Linked DNA regions of Homo sapiens. The protein of the gene in region 1 purifies or fractionates together with the protein of each later gene. This does not show direct contact. Each region holds a gene or a part of one and is shown on either strand. Other genes may lie near its edges. The genes, in order: UBA6, HDLBP and CTPS1.

Region 1 (7,106 bases):
AGATTAACATTAAGTGGATCTTCAGTATTGTCTTGCGTTTTACTACATCTTTTAATTAAGTGACTCTTCCACTTCACTGGACAATTATTTCATACCTTCTTTTCTTTGCTCTTACTTCCTTTATCTTCTTATCCCCTTCACTCTGAGCTACTAAGCTAGCTTCTTATTTCAACTAAGAAAATATTCTTTCTTTATCATAGCCCCAACTATCTCTGTAATTTCCTCATTTAAGACTCTTCCCCTTGTATATTCTCTTCTAGACGAGTCCTGACCTTAAAAGCTTTTCAAGGCCTTTCTCTGCACTTATTTCTGCTGCCTACATTGCTCTTTCACTATTCCTTTACTTCCTTCAGGTTTCTGCTAAAATGTTACTGTTATCAGAGGTTTTCCTCACTTCCATCCCATATAAAATTATACCAGCTCCATCACTCTTTCTTTTCCCTGTTGTATTTTTCCTTCTTAGCACTTACACTCACACTGCAATATTATGTACTTATTAGCATTTTTGTTTATAGTCCCTCTCCGCCCAAAATACATTGGTCCAATGTATTTTATACATTCCTTCAGAAGGTATTATTATGTTATTCATGTATGTATTTTATTATCTATCTTCTCACAAAGGCATGTAAGCTCTATAACAACAGGGGATCTTTATGTATCTTGTTCACTGACAGAACTCCAATATATCTAATTTTTAATACCCACAATGATATAGTGGGCATAAAAAAATATTAACTGAGTAGCTCATACAATCTAAGTCTATACTGATCTTTTTTAAAATTCCACACTAGAATAAAATTAGTATTAATCAACAGTTTGTGATTCTGACAAATCTACTTCAAACTCAAGTTGCACTGACAAGAGCAAGAGCAAGAACCATTCATTGTGATATTCTCCAGGTTTAGAATGGGACTTGGTACAAGTCCAAATTCCCAAACTATTTGCTGAATGAATGATTTTTTAAACATACCTTATTGGAAGGCTTGAATTCCTGAATCTTTACTTCTGAAAGAATATTCAAGAGGGCATCTGCTGATAAGTCCTGTTTTTAAAAAAGTAATTTTACCAACAAACATATTCTTCTAAATTCTAAAGCTAAAAATATCCTACAAAAGGTCCTTAATCATATTACAATATATGAATATTTCATTATCTGAATATGTAGACATCCATTTGAGACATTTATCTTTATTTCTATAAAAATATCCCCCCATAAAGGTTATGGGGGAGGAGAAGGTAAGGGGTAAAAAAGTACTTATTAGTCAACAAACTTGAAATTTTAGTCCTTCTGCAAATTTTTTAAAAGGCATTTTTAGGACTGGTTGTAAATATAAAACTGAGTGACTTGATCAGTCAGTTTTAATTCCCTTAGCTTTATGTTTTATGTTTTTAATGTTTTACAAAGTTCCCTGAAGTAAGTTATACTCAATAAGTAAAATAAGTAAATGGAATTCATACCTTAAGAAGGAGGGAGATATTTAAATGGTTAAAGATGAACTTATATGAATTTAAAGCTATGGGTTGTATTTACATTTGTCATTGAGAAGTTGCTTGGCAAAGGCTGAGACTTAGTGCTTTTGAGGTCAATTACCACACTCACCACTAAATTACCACTGATTTTCCCAAAAAGAATATCAGACTGAATGCCACTATTTTTACCAAATATTTACAGTTTATTTGTATGAATTCCAAAAAGGATTAATCTAAAACAGATATTGTTATCTGAATCCAAAACAGCCAGTGTTAATTATGGGATCTGATTCATGTTTCTCTATTTAGCCCACCTAAAAGTACAGCAATTTACTTAGCTAGAATATGCATTTGTGAAGAAAAGAGATGCCTCTCAAAACCGTATGAGGCTCTTTAGATGTTAGTCAATGAAGATGATGTTTAAGAGAATGAGTATGATGCTAAAGTAAGAAATGTCAATATAAGGGAGCATTTTCAGATTTCCTGAAAAGCACATAAATTATCACAAAATAACAAACAAATGTTAACAAAGAAAATCTCTACGCAGTATTTCAAAATTGCGATGAAATGGTTTGCTGTGGCTTTTTAGAATAACTAGGATAACTGAAGCTGCTAAGCAGGTTATAAATATTCTTAAAACAAAGTTTAACTGCTTTTAACAAATAATGCTGTTTCACTGCTTCAATTCAGAAGGAAAAATCCGACTTCTACTTAGCAATACTGCAATGAGCTTTTAGCTTCCATTATGTTAGTATGGGTAAAAATACAATAAAAATTCTGTATCAAAAAGAGTGATTCTTATAACAAACAAACATGTTTTGATGCAATTAGTGCATCAGTCATCTAATTCTAATTTGGTTTTGCATCACTTGCTAAGGCTTAAAGAATATCTTACCTCTTCTGCAAATGGAATACAATATACTGTAGCATATAGTTTTGCAGCATTCTGAAGGAAACTGAGGTGCCTTTTGAAATTAAAAAATAAAGCAAAATTTGAATGTACAGTTTTAAAGACGATATTTAACTCATTATGAACTATAGCCTTTAAATGTAGTTTGAAGAAATATAACCACAGAATTATTATTTCAAGTTTTTTTTTTTAAGTTAGACAAAAATATTCTGGTCTACACCAAAACACTACAGAAGTTATAAAAGACAAAACATCAAACAGTTATTCTCAAAAACACTTAACATTCAGGTAGTGATCATGACTACCTTGGGAAGAGGAGTGAGTGGACAGAACCAGAAAACTCAGACCAGTGAACAATAATTCATTTTAAGTCATAAGAAATATTATACATTTGGTCTTAATGAGTATATATCAAGTTCAAACTAAGTAAATGTGTTTATTTAAAAACAAAAAAAGAAAGTCTTATAGAAGAAGCAGTCCAGCATAAGGTGACTGGAAGCCTAAAACCACCACCAGATGAGAAAATTAAGCATAGAGTTATCTGCTGAAAGGAAGGTTAGTGAATGCAAGCTAAGTGTTTAAAAATATATATACATAAGGTTGGGTGTGGTGGTATGCACCTGTAATCCCAGCTACTTGGGAAGCTGAGGTGCGAGGATTGCTTGAGCCTAGGAGTTCAAGACCAGGCTGGGCCACATATGTGAGACCTTGTCTCTTTCAAAGAATAAAAACTAAATTAAAAAAATAGAAAAAATATACATATACACACAAGTGTGAATCTAATGTGTATCTAATATAGTGTTTCCAGGTATTCACACAAAGACCAACTCCTCTGAAAATAATTTGAGATTTAGGGAGTTATTCAGTAGTAATTATTTGTTCCTCCATATAACTGAAGATTCTTATATTTGATTTCATTAAATGTAAAAACACATTGTCATTTTACTAATTTATGGATAAAGTAAAAAAGGTGATTTTGGTTTCACCTTAGATATTTATTATAAATAATGAGGTTATTTACCATGTAAATGAATGGATTCACATTTGTGTGGGAAGGGTTGTGGCTGGCTTTCTTGGTCAGAATGACTTGTTAACTCTTAAATGAACAGGGATGAAATAATTTAACATTAAAGAGCCTAAGGTTTTCACTCTGCAATGTACAGTTAAGGAATTTACAGTAAAGAAATATATAATGAAGGATACATAAAACTAAATATAAATACTTACAAAGGCTCATTTAAATCAAATTTTATTGGAGAGGGTGGCCTCTTTGGTGACTGCCAAAATAAACCTGGCAAAAAGATACAAATATCATTTTCAATGTATGTAGCCAGTAATAAATGTCATTAAAATTTATTCTCAACATTTATACTTACTGCCATCTTTTAATCGTATGTCCAGAGGGAAACAGTGAAGAAGCTGAAGAGCCTAAAGAAAAAAAATGAATTAAAGACACCCACTACTTAATATTATCTGAGGAAAAATTAAAAAATAAAATTAAAAAATGTGTGTAGTAAATATATGCACATGATTCAAAAATCAAAACACATTAAAAGAGACACAGTGAAGTCTCCCTACCACCCTTGTATTCCATCTGTCCATTCTCCTGTCAATGTCCCTCATAAATGAAAAATTCAAATATCATTTTCTATCACTATTTGTAGGTTTATTGGGAGGTGGTATCTACAGCAAACAAATGTAGATTACTTCACTCCTTTTTATATAAATGGCATATTTTACATGTCATTCTGTTCTTTTTAAAGAGCTAGTACTTAAATAACAAAACCAGAAAAAACACACAGTACTTTGTATTTTTGAAATTGATACATGTTTGAGATTTGCTTCAAAATCACCTGGGGGAAGGTAAGAATGAACGGGAATGGTGATGAAACAAGATTTATCTATGAATTGATAACTGCTAACCCTGGGTGATAGGTAATTGACAATTACATTAGGGTTCATTATACTATTTCCTCTACATTTCTATGGCTGAATATTTTTCATTATAAAAAAAGTTTAAAAAAAATGCACAGAAGATAAGAACTAAAGAGTTCCTTAGATTTTTGAAACGGGTCATTGATAACCATGTTAAGAACAATCTGAAGAGTAATGAGCAAAGAAGTCAAATTTACTGGGTAAAGAAGTGGTAACATTGAGTAGTACAGACCACTTTTCCAAGAAGTAGAGCTCTGTTGAAAGTAAAAAGAAGAAGTATAAACGAAATATTTTTTAAGTGGGGTGTGGTGGCGTGCACATGCAGCCTCAGCTACTTAAGGGCTGAGGCAGGGATCACTTGAGCCCAGGAGTTCCAGGCCAGACTGGAAAACATAGGGAAACCCTGTTTTTTTGTTTTTTTTTAAAGTTGTTTCTAAGGAAGATGAACTTAAGATCCTAAAGAGAGGGAAAGACTAAAGAGAAGGCAACACACATTCCAGCAACTATATTTAACTGGAGGTAAGAATAACAGCTAATATTTAGTAATTTTTTATGTGCCAGGCTCTGTTCTAAATGCTTTGTGTTACCTCCTTTTATCTTTACCACTACCTTATGTATTAGGTACAAATTTATTATTTCTATTTTACAGATGGGGAAACAGACATAAAATGTGATTATCAGATATGGGTGGAAATGGCAAAATCTCAGCAAAATTTCTGACTAAATGTCCCTATTTTCTCAGTTTCTTGCTTCTTCTATTCTGAACAAACTTCTTTTAGATTAGCATGTGTTCTCATTTAACTTACTACTAATTTCTGAAAAGCTTGCCAAAAGAAAGAATACACATTTCAGGTCAATGAAATTAATTTGTTAATAACTAAATAAGCCAAGATCAGACCTTTTCTTAATGTCTCACAATGCATACTTACCTTATGGTTAAAATATTTTTCAAACTTTAATCTTGCTAATTCTACACACTGGGACCAATTTCTAGGTCTTCTGCTAAGTAACTTTATAACTTGAAAACAGCCTTCTAAACTGTGTCCACTCTGTATCTTCTAGAATGGGAGAGAAAAAAAAAATCAACATACTTCCAATTACAAACATATACACATCCCTCACCAAAAGTTAGCCTAAGTTTGAAGTGTCAACTCATGTGTTTTATGCTTTTCTTTTTTCACCTCAAGCTCCTTTTCCCTTCCTTCTTCTTTAACCTTTCTTTTCTTTTCTGTTTGAGAAGGGGAATGGTAAGAGATAGCATACAAAATTTTAACTCTGATTTCTTATCTTACAAGTTATCCTCATATTTTCCTAGCTGTAAGTTATTAGTACTATAATATATGTACTCACTATAAGTGCTATGAATATTTGATACTAAAAAGTGGGCCTTGTTAGCAAAAGATTAAAAGAAAGTGAGAAAACATCTTTAAAGTTGCCTTCACTATAAGAGTAATAAGTCTTGGAGATTATTGTTCCCTCATGAAATTTTAACTAGAACTTACCTCAATTTTTTCTTTCCAAAGGGCTTAATAAAAGCCCTTTTATTATTTGTAGCCCTTCTATCATAATTATCATATCTTTATTAGCTCGCACCATACGAATTGCTGTTTTGTGAGTCGAACATGCTCAAATATCGACAATTCCATGTAGTTCAAACAACCAAAATGATAATTTGTGACCTAATTTCAAGATTCCTTATGTATCATTTCATTTTTTATATACAATCACTCTTTATGGAGGTAAAATAAATCACTTGTAGATGACTTGAAAATAAGATTACACTGACACAAAGTGTTAAGTTTGTATTAAAATTTACTGATTTTTACCTGTAAGACTTCTTCTGCAGATGAATAGGTTTGCCAAAATTTGTTAAACAATGAAGGTTTGTGGGAAAAGGAACTTTCAAACTGTAACAGAGAAAAGAAAAAAAAAATTACAAATAGAAGTCTGTTTAAAGTCAGAAATATCTTCTTTCTCACTTCAAAGAAAATAAATTTAAAAAGGAACTTTTACCTTATCTCTTGCCCACTGTATGGTATGTTCAATAGCAGCTGGAAAGGATTTTAGAGTACAAAATGGTATTTCCTCTTCTGGGGGATCCCGCTAATTTATAAAATATGACAACAGGTACTTAAGGGGAAGCAATGACCAATTTTTATTGATTTAATCTAGTTTTGAGCTTTAAGCCTATTAAAAATCCAAAAATAAATAAAATCCAACCAGACATTTTTATATCTTCTCTCTCTTAGGCAATAAGAGAAGTTAATTCTTTTGACATTTAACCTATTTGTTAATAGCTATGTAATGCCAAACATGAATCTTATTTATTATTTGTGTACTCATTTAAAGCACCATGTAGTACTCATGACACACCATCATCTATAAATCATTTTTTTCCTCATGAATCAAGGTGACATTTAAAGTTTTATAACACTGCCCCGCTTTGAAAAGTAATTCAGGAATACCCAGTATAGTGCTCAGAAAAGCATGAGTTTTTCCATGGAGAAAAACATCTGGGAGCAGAAATATGTCCTCAATGCTTGAGGTTTCTTGCAGAAAGCATGTATTAAATAAATGGTAAATACCTAAGTCGTTTTTTGTGGATAAAGTACCATTGAAGAAATCCACATTCTATTATAGAGTACATTTTGCCTAGGTTTATTGGTTTACCTAATCTAAAATGACTCACTTTGTCTCAGCAAGTGAATAAAATTTTATGTCTTTGTTGACAGTTCTAGTCTCAATCTAATAGTTTGTTCTTATCAAACAATCTTAAACTCAAAGGGTATTA
Region 2 (7,106 bases), on another chromosome or scaffold:
TTGGTTTCAGGCCAACATAGCCGAGGTAGAGGTCTCCATCCCTGCCAAGCTGCACAACTCCCTCATTGGCACCAAGGGCCGTCTGATCCGCTCCATCATGGAGGAGTGCGGCGGGGTCCACATTCACTTTCCCGTGGAAGGTTCAGGAAGCGACACCGTTGTTATCAGGGGCCCTTCCTCGGATGTGGAGAAGGCCAAGAAGCAGCTCCTGCATCTGGCGGAGGAGAAGGTGAGCATGGGGAGGGAGCGTGACTCTTGGCAGGAAGCCTGGTCCTCAGTACAGTGTTCTCGCTTCTCACTGTGGAAACCCCTGAATGCCCTTCCTTTGTGGCGGGTCAGAAAACAGCTCTATAATGTACTGTTTATGCGTCTTTGTTTTTGCTGTTACTGGAGGGCCTTTCCAGGTCCAAACGCTCACATATGCAATATATAAAAGTTGGTCTTTGGCTTATTAGTTTTGGGGTGCTTTTGTTTTTTAAATATGATTTACAGTAAAATTGGCCATTCTTCAGGTATAGTTGAGTTTTAAGTAACATGCAGTCATGTGACCACAATCATCAAAATTCATTTTCCATCACCCCTAAAGATTGCCCATGGAATTGCTGTTGTCCTTGTGTCAAAACCCATCTGTGGGTATGTTTCCGGGCTCTTCTGGTGACACCAGGTTTATGGGAAGTCTGGAAATCAGTAGTGTGAGCCCTCTTAACTTTGGCTGTTCTACACCCCTTGCTGATCAGCCTGTCAATTTGTAGGAAAAAAGCACTTTCACGTTTTGATTGGGATTGTGTGAAATTTGAAGATGAGACTGGCGAGGATTGACAGCTCAGCAGTTTTGACTTTTGCAGGCATTTCTCCATTTTTTTTAGGTCTGTGATTCTTTATTGGTGTTTTATAATTTTTAGCACATTTTTATGTTCGACTTAACAGATCTAACTACTGTTACTCTTTTAGTGCTATTGTAAATGGCACTTTTTTTCCATTTCCAGTTGTTAGCACATGGAAGTGCCTGTGGTTTTTGTATGTTGACCTTCACGAGGCTGCTAAATAAAGCTCATGTATATTAGCGCCAGTCACTGTTTTGTGGATTTTTTTTTTTTTTTTTTTTTTTTTTTTTTTTTTTTTGAGACGGAGTCTTGCTCTGTCGCCCAGGCTGGAGTGTAGTGGCGCAATCTCGCCTCACTGCAAGCTCCGCCTCCTGGGTTCACGCCATTCTCCTGCCTCAGCCTCCCGAGTAGCTGGGACCACAGGCGCCCGACACCTCACCCAGCTAATTTTTTGTATTTTTAGTAGAGATGGGGTTTCACAGTGTTAGCTAGGATGGTCTCGATCTCCTGACCTCGTGATCCGCCCGCCTCGGCCTCCCAAAGTGCTGGGATTACAGGCGTGAGCCACTGCGCCCGGCCCACTGTTTTGTGGATCCTTATTTTATATGTCACAATCACGTGGTCTGTGGACAGTTACATTTCTCTCTAATCTGGAGCCTTGTATTTCTTGTCTTTTTTGTTGTTGTTATTAGATTGATGTTTTTGTCTTTGTGTTTAACCAGCCTTGCGTTTCTGGGGTAATCCCTGCTTGGTTTGGTAGGTTGTCTTTGGCCATATTGCTAGATTGCATTTGCCTAATTGATTGCCTAATGTTTGACTAATGCTGCTATTTGTGGATGTCTTTGAAAAGTAGCAGAGTCTCTAGGTGGTATTTGGTGAAACCTGCACTTAAAAGGTAGCAAAGTTGTTATTTAATATTTTTGTGCTAGCATGTTTTTCTTTGGTATTTTTGCTTGCGGGCCAGATCTTGGGTCCGGAGAAAGGCAAGAGCTCCCCGTGTGGACCTGAGTCCCGTGGAGCAGCGCCCTTCTCGGGGCCCCTGCGTGGGTCTGCCAGAAGCACTGGTGTCCACAAGCAGTGTCCGGGGCCTTTCCAGGACCCTCGTTTTCTTACTGCCACACAAGGGCGTCGCACTACACGAGGCCTCTGAGGACCGGTCTCTAACTGTAGCCTTGGTTGGCTTGTGTCCCTCTGAGCTTGAGCTTGAGCCTGGGGAGTGGCTGGTTTTGTGGAGGCTGATCTGTAGCACTCGTGGGAAGAAAGGGAGCCTGGCCCAGATTTGTGTGTGCTTGGTCTGGAAGCAGGTAGAAGAGTGGGAGCATGGTGCACACCTCTTGGGCAGCTTGCTTCCTGCTCTGCTGGGCACACCCCACGCTCCCCAGGACGTGCACTCCGCCAACATATCGTCCGGCGCGTTGCTCCCACCTCCCCCTGTGCAGATCAAAAATGGCTTGGAGAAGTTTGGTCAGTGCTTGTAAGTGGCAGGACCAGGGTTCTAAGCCTGTGTGTTCATCCCACCAGCATCTGGTTGTTGTGGAAGAGAAGTAGGTGTGCAGTCTGGGTATTCATCTGTTTATTCAGTGAGGTGTGCTAGCCCCATTTTGGGGGTATTGGTGCAACATCAGGACACTGGTGACAATGTAAGGGGAGCCCGAGCTTGCTGTCCTACAGACCCTCTTGTCTTCCTCACTGTGGTCCAGGCACGTGGTGTCAGGCTAACACAGTGGGATTGGTTTCTGCAGCAAACCAAGAGTTTCACTGTTGACATCCGCGCCAAGCCAGAATACCACAAATTCCTCATCGGCAAGGGGGGCGGCAAAATTCGCAAGGTGCGCGACAGCACTGGAGCACGTGTCATCTTCCCTGCGGCTGAGGACAAGGACCAGGACCTGATCACCATCATTGGAAAGGAGGACGCCGTCCGAGAGGCACAGAAGGAGCTGGAGGCCTTGATCCAAAACCTGGTAGGGAGCGGGCCTCGGCGGCCGACTCTGCTGGGGCCGTGATGGGGTGGCTTATCTTCCATCTCTTCTTAACACTGCAGGATAATGTGGTGGAAGACTCCATGCTGGTGGACCCCAAGCACCACCGCCACTTCGTCATCCGCAGAGGCCAGGTCTTGCGGGAGATTGCTGAAGAGTATGGCGGGGTGATGGTCAGCTTCCCACGCTCTGGCACACAGAGCGACAAAGTCACCCTCAAGGGCGCCAAGGACTGTGTGGAGGCAGCCAAGAAACGCATTCAGGAGATCATTGAGGACCTGGTAGGCACTTGGGTGCTCGGGGAGGGGTTCTCACCCCCCAGTGGCCACTCACCGAAGCCGTGTATGAGTGTTCGCTCCACCCTGTAGGGAGGTGACTCCCTCATACAGCCCTGGAAGGCTTCAGAAGGGGCTTTCTGGTGCTCGCTCTTCTTTCCTCAGCCTGTCTGGCCTCCTTCCTGATAGTTGGTGAGAATTCTGCCTGCGAGAAGCACTTAAAAAAAAAAAGAGAGAGAGAAGGAGAAGAGGAGAGGGGAGAGAGAGAGAGGAAAGAAAGCAAGAGAAAGAAAGAAAATGCATTCTGTATAAGGGATCAGGAAAAATGAAAATGCAGTCTAAGGGGTCAGCTCTCTTCTCCCCTCTGTGAAGGAAAGAAAATCGATTTGAGGGCATCCACGTGAATCCATGGGAAGTCATGAGAAGACGTGGTCTTTAGAAGCAGTCTTTAGAGAGTGTCCCCTCCAGGCCACTCCCCTGCCAGGGCCTTGGATTCCCTTTCCCTAATAATCAAGTCTGATGCCTCCTCATGGAGTCAGAGGCTACCCCAGGAGGTCCCACTCCTTTGGCTGAATTGGCCACCCTCCAGGGATGGCACCTGGCCTTCTGGGACACATTTCAGAGGAGGCCCACCCCCTTAGACCTGTCCTGCTACCTCCCTCCTCCCTGCGCCTGGAGCCCTGGACTCGGGAGAAGGGGAGCATCTGTGCCAAGTGGCTGTAGAGGACAGGGAGGAAGGTGGTGTGAAGAGTGCTGTAAAACTTGCCCTAAGGAATTTAATCTTTGCTCTTTTCTTTTTTCTTTGTGTACCTCCCTCCAGGAAGCTCAGGTGACATTAGAATGTGCTATACCCCAGAAATTCCATCGATCTGTCATGGGCCCCAAAGGTTCCAGAATCCAGCAGATTACTCGGGATTTCAGTGTTCAAATTAAATTCCCAGACAGAGAGGAGAACGCAGGTGGGTCCCCCATTAGCCCTGCTCTGCTTGTTAATAGTGGCGCCTCCCATGTGAGAGGCGGGGCTGTCGCACATACTGGTGAGGCTCTTTCCTGTCTCTGCTGGAAAACCATCTATGTATTCTGGGGGCTTCCAGAGGTTCAGGGTCACTCCCTGGCCTTTAAAAGATGGACCACGTCAGTTACTGACAGAGTGACCAGGTGACCTTCATAGGTCCTAGAGACACACAAGGTAGCCAGTCCCAAGGCGATGAGGAGCGTGCAGCCTCATCCTCGGGTGTCCCGAGTTCAGTCCCAGTGATTCTCATGACATCGTTTGGATCGCATGAGCCCCGTCGTAGAGCTTCCTCCTCCACATCTCCCATCACTGTGGGGTGTCCCCTGTGAGGCAGGCAGCTGCAGCCTCTGGCTGGCCAGAGGGCACCATCCAAGTGGCCGGCAGTTCTAGGAGAGCATTCAGTTCCCCGTACCATGCTTGCCCCCAGCTCTGCTCATGCACCTGGTGGTGGGGAGGCGACCTGTGGGATGCGGGTCGGTTGCCTCTCTCTCACTTGCTCTGCATTTGTGAAACAAAAGGTATGCCCTCCACTCTGTGTTATCAGATGCCCGCCCTCCACTCTGTGTTATCAGTCTTGGTTGAGCTGTTTGGGCGGCAGGTGGCCCTGCAGCCTGCTGAGTGCACATAGTGTCATCTCTCTGGGCATCCAGGAAGCATGTCACACACAGCCATTCAAGCCCCTTTGTTTTCCTGAGAATACAGGGTGTTTTGAGTAGGAAACTAATAAACTCATACTGCACTCTGTCTATGTTTTACACTTCAGTGGTTATTTAAAACTTTGATTTTGATAGAATTTCACAGAATAGTATAAAGACACATCCTGTGGCACCAGTTTCTTTTCTCAACTTCTCCCCTTTTACACACGTTTTTTTTCTGAATGTCATTTTTAGACATGTCCCTTTATTCATGGTGGGTATTTTCTTAGAACAAGGACATTCTCTTACATAATTCTAGCACATTTATCGGAATCGGATTTAACATTATATAACAGTAGTATCTAATATGTTGTCGGTATTCAAATTTGCCAGTTTTTCTCCTTCAGAAACACCTACTTCCCCATCCTAGGATCACCCTTGATTTCAGGCAGGCGTCTGTCTGGTCTCCTGCTCATTTATTTACATCACACACCTCCTGGGTTCTGTCTTAGTGATAATTATTGTTGTGTCTGTTTTGTGACACTTATTGTTGTGGTGTCTATTTTGGTACACACGCGGTGTCCCAGTGTGGCCTGTAGGAGCCCCTCCAGCTGTCTTCTGTGTCCTGTTCACACGCCTCTTCACTTCTGGGGCTCTCGCTTTCTGGCATAAGGAGCTGGCACAGGTTTACCTTGGCCTTGCCCTTTCTGTCTCCCCTAGACCTCTCACCCCCCTTCCCACTGCCTCTCCTGGGTGGGGCTGCGTGCTGGCCGCCTTCCCTGATGAGCCCTGCCTCACAGTCAAGCCTCACTTGTGCAGTGGGTCTGCCCTGTGTTCCTCCCATGAACTAACTCATCTGATCTCACTGAAGCCTCTGCTGTAGTTAGTTGCTGTTAGCTTCATCTTCAAGGTGAAGAAGGGAGACACAGAGCTCACGGCCTCCCGGCAAAGCCTTCATTGCCGCCCCCCCCCCCCCCCCCAAGGTCTGGGAGCCCTCTTTGAGGCTGCTGTGGGGACGTCCTATCTGCTCTCCCTGACCAGACCAAGACCTCCTGAAGGACAGGAGTGGTTTTCCCTCCCTTTTACCACCCAGCACCCAGCAGGTGCCTCACAGACATATGCATTCTGAACAAGGTGTGGGGTCTCTTCCAGCAGCTGTCAGCTGTCCCTTTTCCCCTTTCTCTCTAGTTCACAGTACAGAGCCAGTTGTCCAGGAGAATGGGGACGAAGCTGGGGAGGGGAGAGAGGCTAAAGATTGTGACCCCGGCTCTCCAAGGAGGTGTGACATCATCATCATCTCTGGCCGGAAAGAAAAGTGTGAGGCTGCCAAGGAAGCTCTGGAGGTATGTGTCCATGTGCCCCCCTCCACCCCCCGCCAAGGCCCAGTCAGCAGGCACCTGGGGAGACGCGTGGCCTGGATGGGATGGACGGTTGCCCAAGCGGCAGTGGCAGTGGAGGTAGCCCTCTTGCTCCTACCGTGTGCGCACGGGCTGTGCTTCTCGGCTGGACACAGAGTTTGGGGAGGCCACTTCCCTTCACCAAGGCTCGGGGTTCTATAGCCCCTTTCTGGGACAGCTGCATGGGATCCGGCCTCTCAGGCCCACGGTGGGTGCGGGGGCTGTGGAAGGGTCTCAGCTGCAGGGGGATGAATGTGACCTCCAGTTGCAACGTCTCCCCCCGCGTGAGTGGGGTTATCAGGCCTAGCTCACCTTGTGTGCAGTCAGTGTCGAGTGCCACCTGCGTACTGGATGCTGCTCTCAGTGCTGCGGTGCCACAGCACACAAAAATAGTTCTCACGTTGCCGTGGAGAGACAAGCAGTCAACGCAGATATATCCTGTGGCAAGTGATGGTAAATGCTGTGGCAAGAAAGCAGGTTCTGGAGGTGAAGGGCGGTGGGGGAGACAGGGCAGGGAAGGTGAGCAGCGGTCTGAGAGTCCCTTGTGGCACCTCGTGGGCATTAGCCAAAGCCGTCCTGATCCCAAGGGACAGGGCAGGGAAGGTGAGTAGTGGTCCGAGAGTCCCTTGTGGCACCTCATGGGCATCGGTCAAAGCCGTCATGACCCCGAGGATGTGCCAGGAGTCAGGGCCTCTCCTCCTACGTGGGCCTGAAGGGGCTGCTGTAATTCAGGAGGGTAGGCTTGGGATGAAGGGTCTGGAATTTCTGTCTGCCAGCATTAGCCTAATGCAAATCTTTTCCTATTCTTTTCTATTGAGTTAAAGGTCCTGGTGGCATTGTCGGGTGGGGCACATTGCTGTTGTCATAGGGCTGTTTGCCTTGTGTTTCGTGGAGCCCCATTGCTGAGCTTACAACGTCACTCTGCTCTCAGCTCCCACGGCCTAACCATGACCATCCTCCCTGCAGGCATTGGTTCCT
Region 3 (7,548 bases), on another chromosome or scaffold:
GAAAACACAGCTCCTCTAGGTTACAAAAGATAGACTAAAAGGAAAGAACATCAACATTTAAAAGTGGTTGCAGCTAAACCAAAATTCCTTTAATTAAAAGTAGTTCTCTGGCTGGGCATGGTGGCTCATGCCTGTAATCCCAGCACTTTGGGAGGCAGAGCCAGGAGGATCACTTGAGGTCAGGAGTTCGAGACCAGCCTGGCCAATATGGGGAAACCGCATCTCTACTAAAAATACAAAAATTAGCCGGCTGTGATGGCGCACGCCTGTAGTCCCAGTTACTCAGGAGACTGAGGCAGGAGAATCGCTTGAACCCAGGAGACAGAGGTTGCAGTGAGCTGGGATCATGCCACTGCACTCCAGCGTGCGCGACAGAATAAGACTACCTCAAAAAAAAAGAAAAAGTAGTTCTCTTCTATAATTTAACAACAACTTGCTCCTTGTCAGAAATCTCTCCCAGGCATGCAATGAAGAGAGACTGTAAATACTGGGGGAGAGGGACATCAGATAAGAAACCAGTCTGAAGCACATGACGGGCAGAGGACTCAAAGAGAGGGGAGATGAGATTAAATCCAAAAAGCAGTGCCACGGTGGCAGGGAAAGGAGAAATAAGATATAAGGGCAGCAGAGTCAAGATGCAGGTGAAAACAGCATCGACAAGAGGTGAGGAGACCGTGACAGGCTCACCACGGAGGATTTATCACTGGTCCCCAGCTTCAGAGGTCCAGGATCGTCCATTTGGTCAGCAAACCCAAATGTGACCAAAATGAAAAACACAATTAGAAAGTAGCAGAAAATGCTTACTTTGGCATGGTCAGGACATTTTCCTCCTCAGGAACGTTCCATGTGAAGCCAAATTATGATAAAAATAAACTAAGGAACAAGAAAACTAAGGAGTTGTGCTCGAAGCATTCCCCCGCCCCACCCCCTCCCCAGAGCAAGAAAGAACACACTTGGCAGGGAAGGAAGAATGCTCAGAAGTCTTCCCCGCTCCAAAGGCTCTTTGCATCCTCTGCTGCAGCATTTCCAAAAGCATGCTCCCTGGTTTCAACAAAATGCACATGGGATTCTCAAAAAGGGTGTTATGGATATAAATCAGAGAAACGCTGATTAAACCAAGTCATTTAACGCAAGAATCCTGGGAGTGTTTAGCAAGTAAACTCGCACTGTGATCACTGCTATACAGTATGCGGTGTCTCCAAGCTTATCTGACCCTAAGTCTCTCACTTTACAGTTCCTTATTGACACATGAAAATCAGTCTTAGGTACATTTTAGATATGTTCTAACCAGACATATACCTTACTGAGACTATACCCTGGTCTCCCTAAGTTTTGGATGATCCTAGAAATTCCTCTGCCACCGAGTGAGTTACTTCTACAAAAGATTCATCTCATCCAATTACATTTGATTTGTCCCAATTTTACTCTAAGAGTTTAACATCTCTCTTTACGTTCTTTAGTTTCTCTCTTTAGATTCTTGCAGTCTCAGTGCCTGGCAATACATATGCCAGTGTACATAAAGATCAGGCGGGAGGCTCATTCATTCATCCTTATGGGCTACTGACTTACATGACAGCTACTGTGCTTGGGGACTGCAAACATTAATCAGATTTGGGCCCATATCTCAACTTTCTGGCAGTCCAGTTGGAGAGATGAAACATTAACAAATAAATGAGTAATTCAGTGACGGTGGAAGCAGACAGAAAACATGTTTAGACTATAAAGGGGGACGATGAGAGCAGACGCTTTCAGTACCATGGCCATCAGAGGAAGGTGAGACAAGTCCTGGGGGTAGTGGGCGGATCCAGGCGGCTCCTGTTTTGTAGATATGACTTGCAATGGGCCTTGAAGGACTGACTGCACGACTCAGAGCACAGGAAAGGGAACAGGGTGAACAGGCAGGTGCAGGGCAGCTACAGAGAACAGAGGTAAGGCCGTGAGGGGGAAGGCGGGGAAGCAGGGATATACAGTGGAAGATAAACTGGAAAGGTAGGCAAGGGCCAGATCATGTGCAAACTGGCATGCCCAATCTGAACTTAATCCTGAAGGTGACGGAAGGCGCAAGAAGGTTTTCCGGCACAGAAGTAACGTAAATCAAGACGCATCAGAGAAATTCAACAAAGACTGAGGGGGGAAATGCTTTTTCTTTCAATGTTATGAGATGAAGTGCCAGCCCCCATCACTAGTGTGCAGACCTCAATCATGTCACTTGAGCTGCCTGCAACGCGGGTTCTCACCTAGGGGAATGGGGGTGAGAATCTCTGCGCCGCCCGCGTCACAGGGCCGCTGAGGATTCGAAACTGTAACGAGCGTGGACGGAAGGGCGCCACGCAAACGTGGTGAGCTCTATACACCGCCAGCGCCCCGACCCCCGGCCGCCGGGAAGGGAGGAAGCCGTGAGGCCCAAAGGCCAGCCGCGGGGCCCAGGGCCGGCGAGTTCGCAGGCCCCCTCGTCCTACGGCGCGGAGCTGCCGCGCCCAGCCCCGGGCGGCTGAGCCCGCGCCGAGGCCGGAGGCCCGAGGCCCGCACTGCTTGAATGGATGGGCGACTGCCGGGCTTCCTCGCAGACGAAGAGCAAGGGCGGAGGGTGTGGGGGGGGGCGCCGCTCCACTCCCCTACGGCCTTCTCCGTCCGACGAGCCCGGCCGAGCTGATTCGGCGCGGCCCAGCGCGGCAGCGCAGGCCCCGCAGCCTCTGAAGCCGCCCCGCGCCCCGCTTGGCCCCTCTCCCCAGCGCCGCCCGGCCACGAGGCCCGCGCGCGGGAGCCGGCAGCTCGCCGGCCGGGGCGCCCGCCCCACTCCCGTTAGGCACACAGCCCATTGGGCAGGACGCCGAGTCACCTCGCCCCTGATTGGTAGGAGCGACGTCCGTCACCGCGGCGGCGGGGCTATTCGGCGCCGGGCTCAGCTCGCGCCGCTGACTCCTGCGCGGGAGAACAGATCCCCCCCGGGATCCCTGGAGTCAGCCTACCTGCGGCCGGCTTCAGATCCTCCCGTCAGCGACAGAGCTGGGCCGGCGACGCGCGCGGAGCCCCGGACAGCCAGTGAACAACCCCGACCGCATGCGCCCGGCAGTCTTTCACGGAGGCGGGCTCTAGGCTGTGCGCACGCAGAGGTTGGAGGGCGGGCCGGGCCTGGAGGGCGCGGGGCGGGGCGGGGCCTGGAGTGCGCAGGCGCGGGACAGGACCGCTGGGCCGCCTCCGCTGAACTGTGCCGCCGTAGGTTCGAGGCCGGGCGGGTGGTGGCGTGTCTGCCCCTCTGCTTCCGTCCCAGCCTGTGGCCCAAGCTTACTCTCTTGAAGGGGAGGAGGCTGTTTGGGAACTCACGCCTGGCCTATTCGTCACCTGGCCTCGCGTCCTCCCACAGCGGTCTCCTGGAGTTCTGGGCGTCGCCTTCCATCCGATGGTCTTTCACTGTGGGCTCCTGGCGGTGATGCGCCAGCGCATCTCTGCCTCCGGGCGAGGGACGGCGGCAGCGCCACCCTGGCCTCCAAGACGGAAGTGCGGAGGGTCGCGCGGCGTTGGCTCCTCGTCGGCCTCCCTCCTCCCCACACCTGCCCCGAAGGCGGCTGCTTTGGATGGACTAGGATCCCGAAAAGTACGGTTTCATCTAGCTATCGCTCCCTGAGCACCGACTGTGCCACGCACTGTGCTGGGCACCGAGGGACCCTCTCCTCGGACTAACGATGTAGGGAGGCACACTGAGCAGCTCATTACACTTTATGGTTGTTATGGGTGCTTGCTGCAGAGATGCTGGTGCCGGGGCAGTGAGTGCCCAGCGCGGGGACTGACCCAAGTCCGGTGGTGATTGGGAATTCAGGCGGGAAGCCCGCCCTGAAAAAGTAACTTTGAAGCAGAGACCTAAGTAGACGGCAAAGATGGGAAAGGGAGAGGCGGGGATAAGAAAGTGAGACATGCTTGAGCCCAACAGTTCGAGACCAACTTGGGTAACATAGCGAGACCCCGTTTCTTATAAAAATAATAATAGTAGGCCGGGCGCAGTGGCTCACACCTGTAATCCCAACATTTTGGGAGGCCGAGGCAGGCGGATCACAAGGTCAGGAGTTCAAGACCAGCCTCGCCAATATGGTGAAACCCCGTCTCTACTAAAAATACAAAAATTAGCTGGGCGTGGTGGTGGGTGCCTGTAGTCCCAGCTACTCAGGAGGCTGAGGCAGGAGAATAGCTTGAACCTGGGAGGTGGAGGTTGCAGTGAGCCAAGATTGCACCACTGCATTCCAGCCTGGGCGACAGAGCGAGACTCCTTCTCAAAGAATAAATAAATAAAATAAAAATAGTAATAATAATTTTTTTTTAAAAGTGAGGCAGAAGGAAAAGCCTGTGTACAAGCCCAAAGAGGCCGGCACAGCTGAATTGGAAGGCCAGTCTAGCCAAGTCCACAAGGGCCACAGGAAGCGAGATTAACATGAGATTAGGTTGAAGAGTTGGGTAGGGCCATACGGTGAAGAGCATTATAGACCAAGTAAAGGCTTCTCTTTCTCCTAGGGATAGTGGAAAGCTGTAGAAACTTTTGAGAGGCTTTTGACCTTCCTTTGAATAGTGAATATATGTACATGGTTATAATTTTTCCCCAAACACTACACAAGGGTATCCATGAAAAGTAAATCTCTTATTTCTGTACCCCAGTGTTCCTGTTTTGTTCTCTAGAAGCAGTCTGCCACAAGTTCTTAACTATCTTCACTGAAGGAGTTTTAAAAAAAAAGATGTGATGGGATCAGATTTGTGTTTTAGGAAAATCATTGAAGCAGATGGATTCCCAGAAACCAGGTCAGGAGGCTCCTGCAGTGGCCTCTTTTAGAGGCTTCTGGCTCCTTCCAGATCTGGATCACCAGTGCTTCAACCCTGACAACCTGCCCATGCTGCATTCAGCTCCAAATCTAAAAAATGTTTGGAATGCCAGGCATAGTGGCTCACACTTGTGATCCTGACACTTTGGGAGGCTGACACAGGGTGGGAGGATTTCTTGAGTCCAGGAGTTCAAGACCAGCCTAGGCAATATAGTGAGACCCCATCTCTACAAAAAATACAAAAATTAGCTGAGCATGGTGGCACGCATCTGTAGTCCTGGCTACTCCAGAGCCTGAGGCTGGAGGAATGCTTGAACCCAGGAATTCAAGGCCAATGGGAGCTAGGATCCCACCACTGCACTCCAGCCTGGGCAGAGTGAGACTCTATCTCAAAAAAAAAAAAAAAAAGTTTGGGTTGTCTTTGAAGGTACTCTACAGCCACATCTTCTTTCAAGAAGCATTTGATGTTTATCAAAGTGCCTGGAACATAACAGATGCTGAGAACATACTTGCTGAGGTAATGAAGATGCTATGGGAGATGGAAAAATGAGCCATTCACCCAACCACTCCTCTGAATGACCACTTGACATTGTCTTCTTCCTCAAAGCTCTTCCATCTCCTCCCCCATATTCTCCTCAGCTGGTGGTCTTGCTTCCCATTTCACGAGAAAATAGAAGCCATCAGTAGATTTTTCATATCCACCAACCACTTTTATCTGCGCACAAGCTCTGCGTTGTCTCCTGTTACTGTGGACAAACTGCCCACACTCCCAGAGGTCAACCTCCTCTTTGCTCCAAGTGCCATATCCATTTGTCAACTCAAAGAATGTCTAGTATGCAAGTGCCATATCCTTTCATCAACTCAAGAATGTCTAGTAGAATGTCCCTTCCTGCGTCATCAGTCTTTCCCTGTCTAGTAGATCTTTTCCACTACCGTGATGCAAACATGCTGCAATTTGTTCCATCTTAAAACCCCTCTCCTGACTCTATGCCATTCTCTAGCTCCCCCTCCATTTCTGTTTCACTTTTCAGCACAACTCCTAAAAAATGTTGTTTGTACTTTGCTGTCTCAATTTCTTCCCTCTCTTGAACTCATTCCAATCTGGATATTTTGCTCATATAATTTCACTGAAACTGATCTCGTCAAAAATTAACCTCCATGTTCTCAGACCTCTTCTTTGTACATCAGCCTAGACTCCAATCTCTAATGTCCGTAAGTCCCAAATAAAGACAACAGTGGGCTGGGCGCAGTGGCTCATGCCTGTAATCCCAGCACTTCGGGAGCCTGAGATGGGTGGATCACAAGGTCAGGAGTTCGAGACCAGTTTGCAAATATGGTGAAACCCCGTCTCTACTAAAAATACAAAACTTAGCCAGACGTGGTGGCAGGCGCCTGTAGTCCCAGCTACTCAGGAGGCTGAGGCAGGAGAATCACTTGAACCTGGGAGGCGGAGGTTGCAGTGAGCCAAGATTGCACCACTGCACTTCAGCCTGGGCGACGAGCGAGACTCCGTCTCAAAAAAAAAAAAAAATAGACAACAGTGTGGCTGTATGTGCATGGCATGAATGCATATGTGTGTGTGCACGTGCGCATGTGTATGTATTTACATATTTGGGCTGCTTCTCTCCCCCACCATAGGCCCAGTCTCCTTTTGGGCTCCTAGGTGCAGCTATACAGCCCCAGAGCTGCCCCCAAACTGACCACTTCCCTAAGAGCATTTGTCACAGCTGATCATTTCCTCCTTAAAAGGTGGGTGTCCTTTACTTGGCTTCTAGGAAACCACTTGCTGTTCATTTTTTCCTATTTCACAGGTTTCTCCTTCTAGATCTCCCTACCTAGATCCTCTTCCTTTTCCTCTATCCTGAACTATAAACATTGCCCCAAGCCTCAGTTCTAGGATCCCTTCTCTCTAAAGTCATTATCTAGTCATTAAAACCATCTGGCCCAGACGCAGTGGCTCACGTCTGTAATCTCAGCACTTTAGGAGGCCGAGGTGGGCGGATCACAATGTCAGGAGTTCAAGACCAGCCTGGCCAACATGGTGAAATCCCGTCTACTAAAAATACAAAAATTAGCTGGGTGTGGTGGCGCAGGCCTGTAATCCCAGCTACTCGGGAGGCTGAGGCAGGAGAATCACTTGAACCCTGGAGGCGGAGGTTGTAGTGAGCTGAGATTGCACCATTGCACTCCAGCCTGGACAACAGAACAAGACTCCGTCTAAAAAACAAAACAAACAAAAAAAATCCTTATTCTGACTACTCCCAAATTGATGTTCCCAGGCTGGATGTGTCCTGAACCCCAAGTTCTCTTCCAAGCCCAGGTCCTGAGGTGAGCCAGGCGCCTCGCCTACACGTGGGCCAACTCTATGATCCCATTGGTGCTCTAGAGCTCCCCGTGGGATCAGGCTGAGGCAAACTTCCTGAAAAGAACCAGTCTGTATTTTAGGCTTTGTGGGCCATATGGTCTCTTGCAATCACTCAACTCTGCCTTCATAGTGCAAAAGTAGCCATAGATAATATATCGATTAAATGAATGTGACTTATTTCAATAGAACTATAGCTGTGTTCACAAAATACTCTTTTACAGAAATAGAGCTTGGGTCTGAAGGCCAAAATGTGCCAACTCCTGAGCTAAACACATATCTTTGTCTCACTTTTTCCCCGCCCCATGCTCCCCTCGCTCCCTCACAGTCTTCACCTGAGGTTATTCCTCAGTCACTCGCTGACTCAAGAACCTACCTCCG

What was found.
Region 2: the proteins of UBA6 (region 1) and HDLBP fractionate together in Homo sapiens (co-fractionation; 2 studies listed by BioGRID). This does not show direct contact.
Region 3: the proteins of UBA6 (region 1) and CTPS1 fractionate together in Homo sapiens (co-fractionation; 2 studies listed by BioGRID). This does not show direct contact.

The regions. Positions count from the first base shown.
Region 1 is NC_000004.12:67,628,101-67,635,206, forward strand, and holds part of UBA6 (ubiquitin-like modifier-activating enzyme 6), read right to left. Parts: intron 6,419-7,106; coding exon 6,329-6,418; intron 6,223-6,328; coding exon 6,142-6,222; intron 5,374-6,141; coding exon 5,245-5,373; intron 3,809-5,244; coding exon 3,757-3,808; intron 3,672-3,756; coding exon 3,608-3,671; intron 2,436-3,607; coding exon 2,366-2,435; intron 1,043-2,365; coding exon 971-1,042; intron 1-970. UniProt on the Homo sapiens protein: Activates ubiquitin by first adenylating its C-terminal glycine residue with ATP, and thereafter linking this residue to the side chain of a cysteine residue in E1, yielding a ubiquitin-E1 thioester and free AMP.
Region 2 is NC_000002.12:241,235,583-241,242,688, reverse strand, and holds part of HDLBP (vigilin), read left to right. Parts: intron 1-10; coding exon 11-229; intron 230-2,380; exon of another isoform or gene 2,381-2,566; coding exon 2,567-2,788; exon of another isoform or gene 2,789-2,868; coding exon 2,869-3,087; exon of another isoform or gene 3,088-3,187; coding exon of another isoform or gene 3,188-3,298; intron 3,299-3,901; coding exon 3,902-4,040; intron 4,041-5,919; coding exon 5,920-6,074; intron 6,075-7,094; coding exon 7,095-7,106. UniProt on the Homo sapiens protein: Appears to play a role in cell sterol metabolism. It may function to protect cells from over-accumulation of cholesterol.
Region 3 is NC_000001.11:40,975,251-40,982,798, reverse strand, and holds the start of CTPS1 (CTP synthase 1), read right to left. Parts: upstream 3,104-7,548; 5' UTR 2,970-3,103; intron 2,770-2,969; exon of another isoform or gene 2,238-2,769; intron 2,208-2,237; exon of another isoform or gene 813-2,207; coding exon of another isoform or gene 805-812; intron 760-804; exon of another isoform or gene 688-759; intron 1-687. UniProt on the Homo sapiens protein: This enzyme is involved in the de novo synthesis of CTP, a precursor of DNA, RNA and phospholipids. Catalyzes the ATP-dependent amination of UTP to CTP with either L-glutamine or ammonia as a source of nitrogen.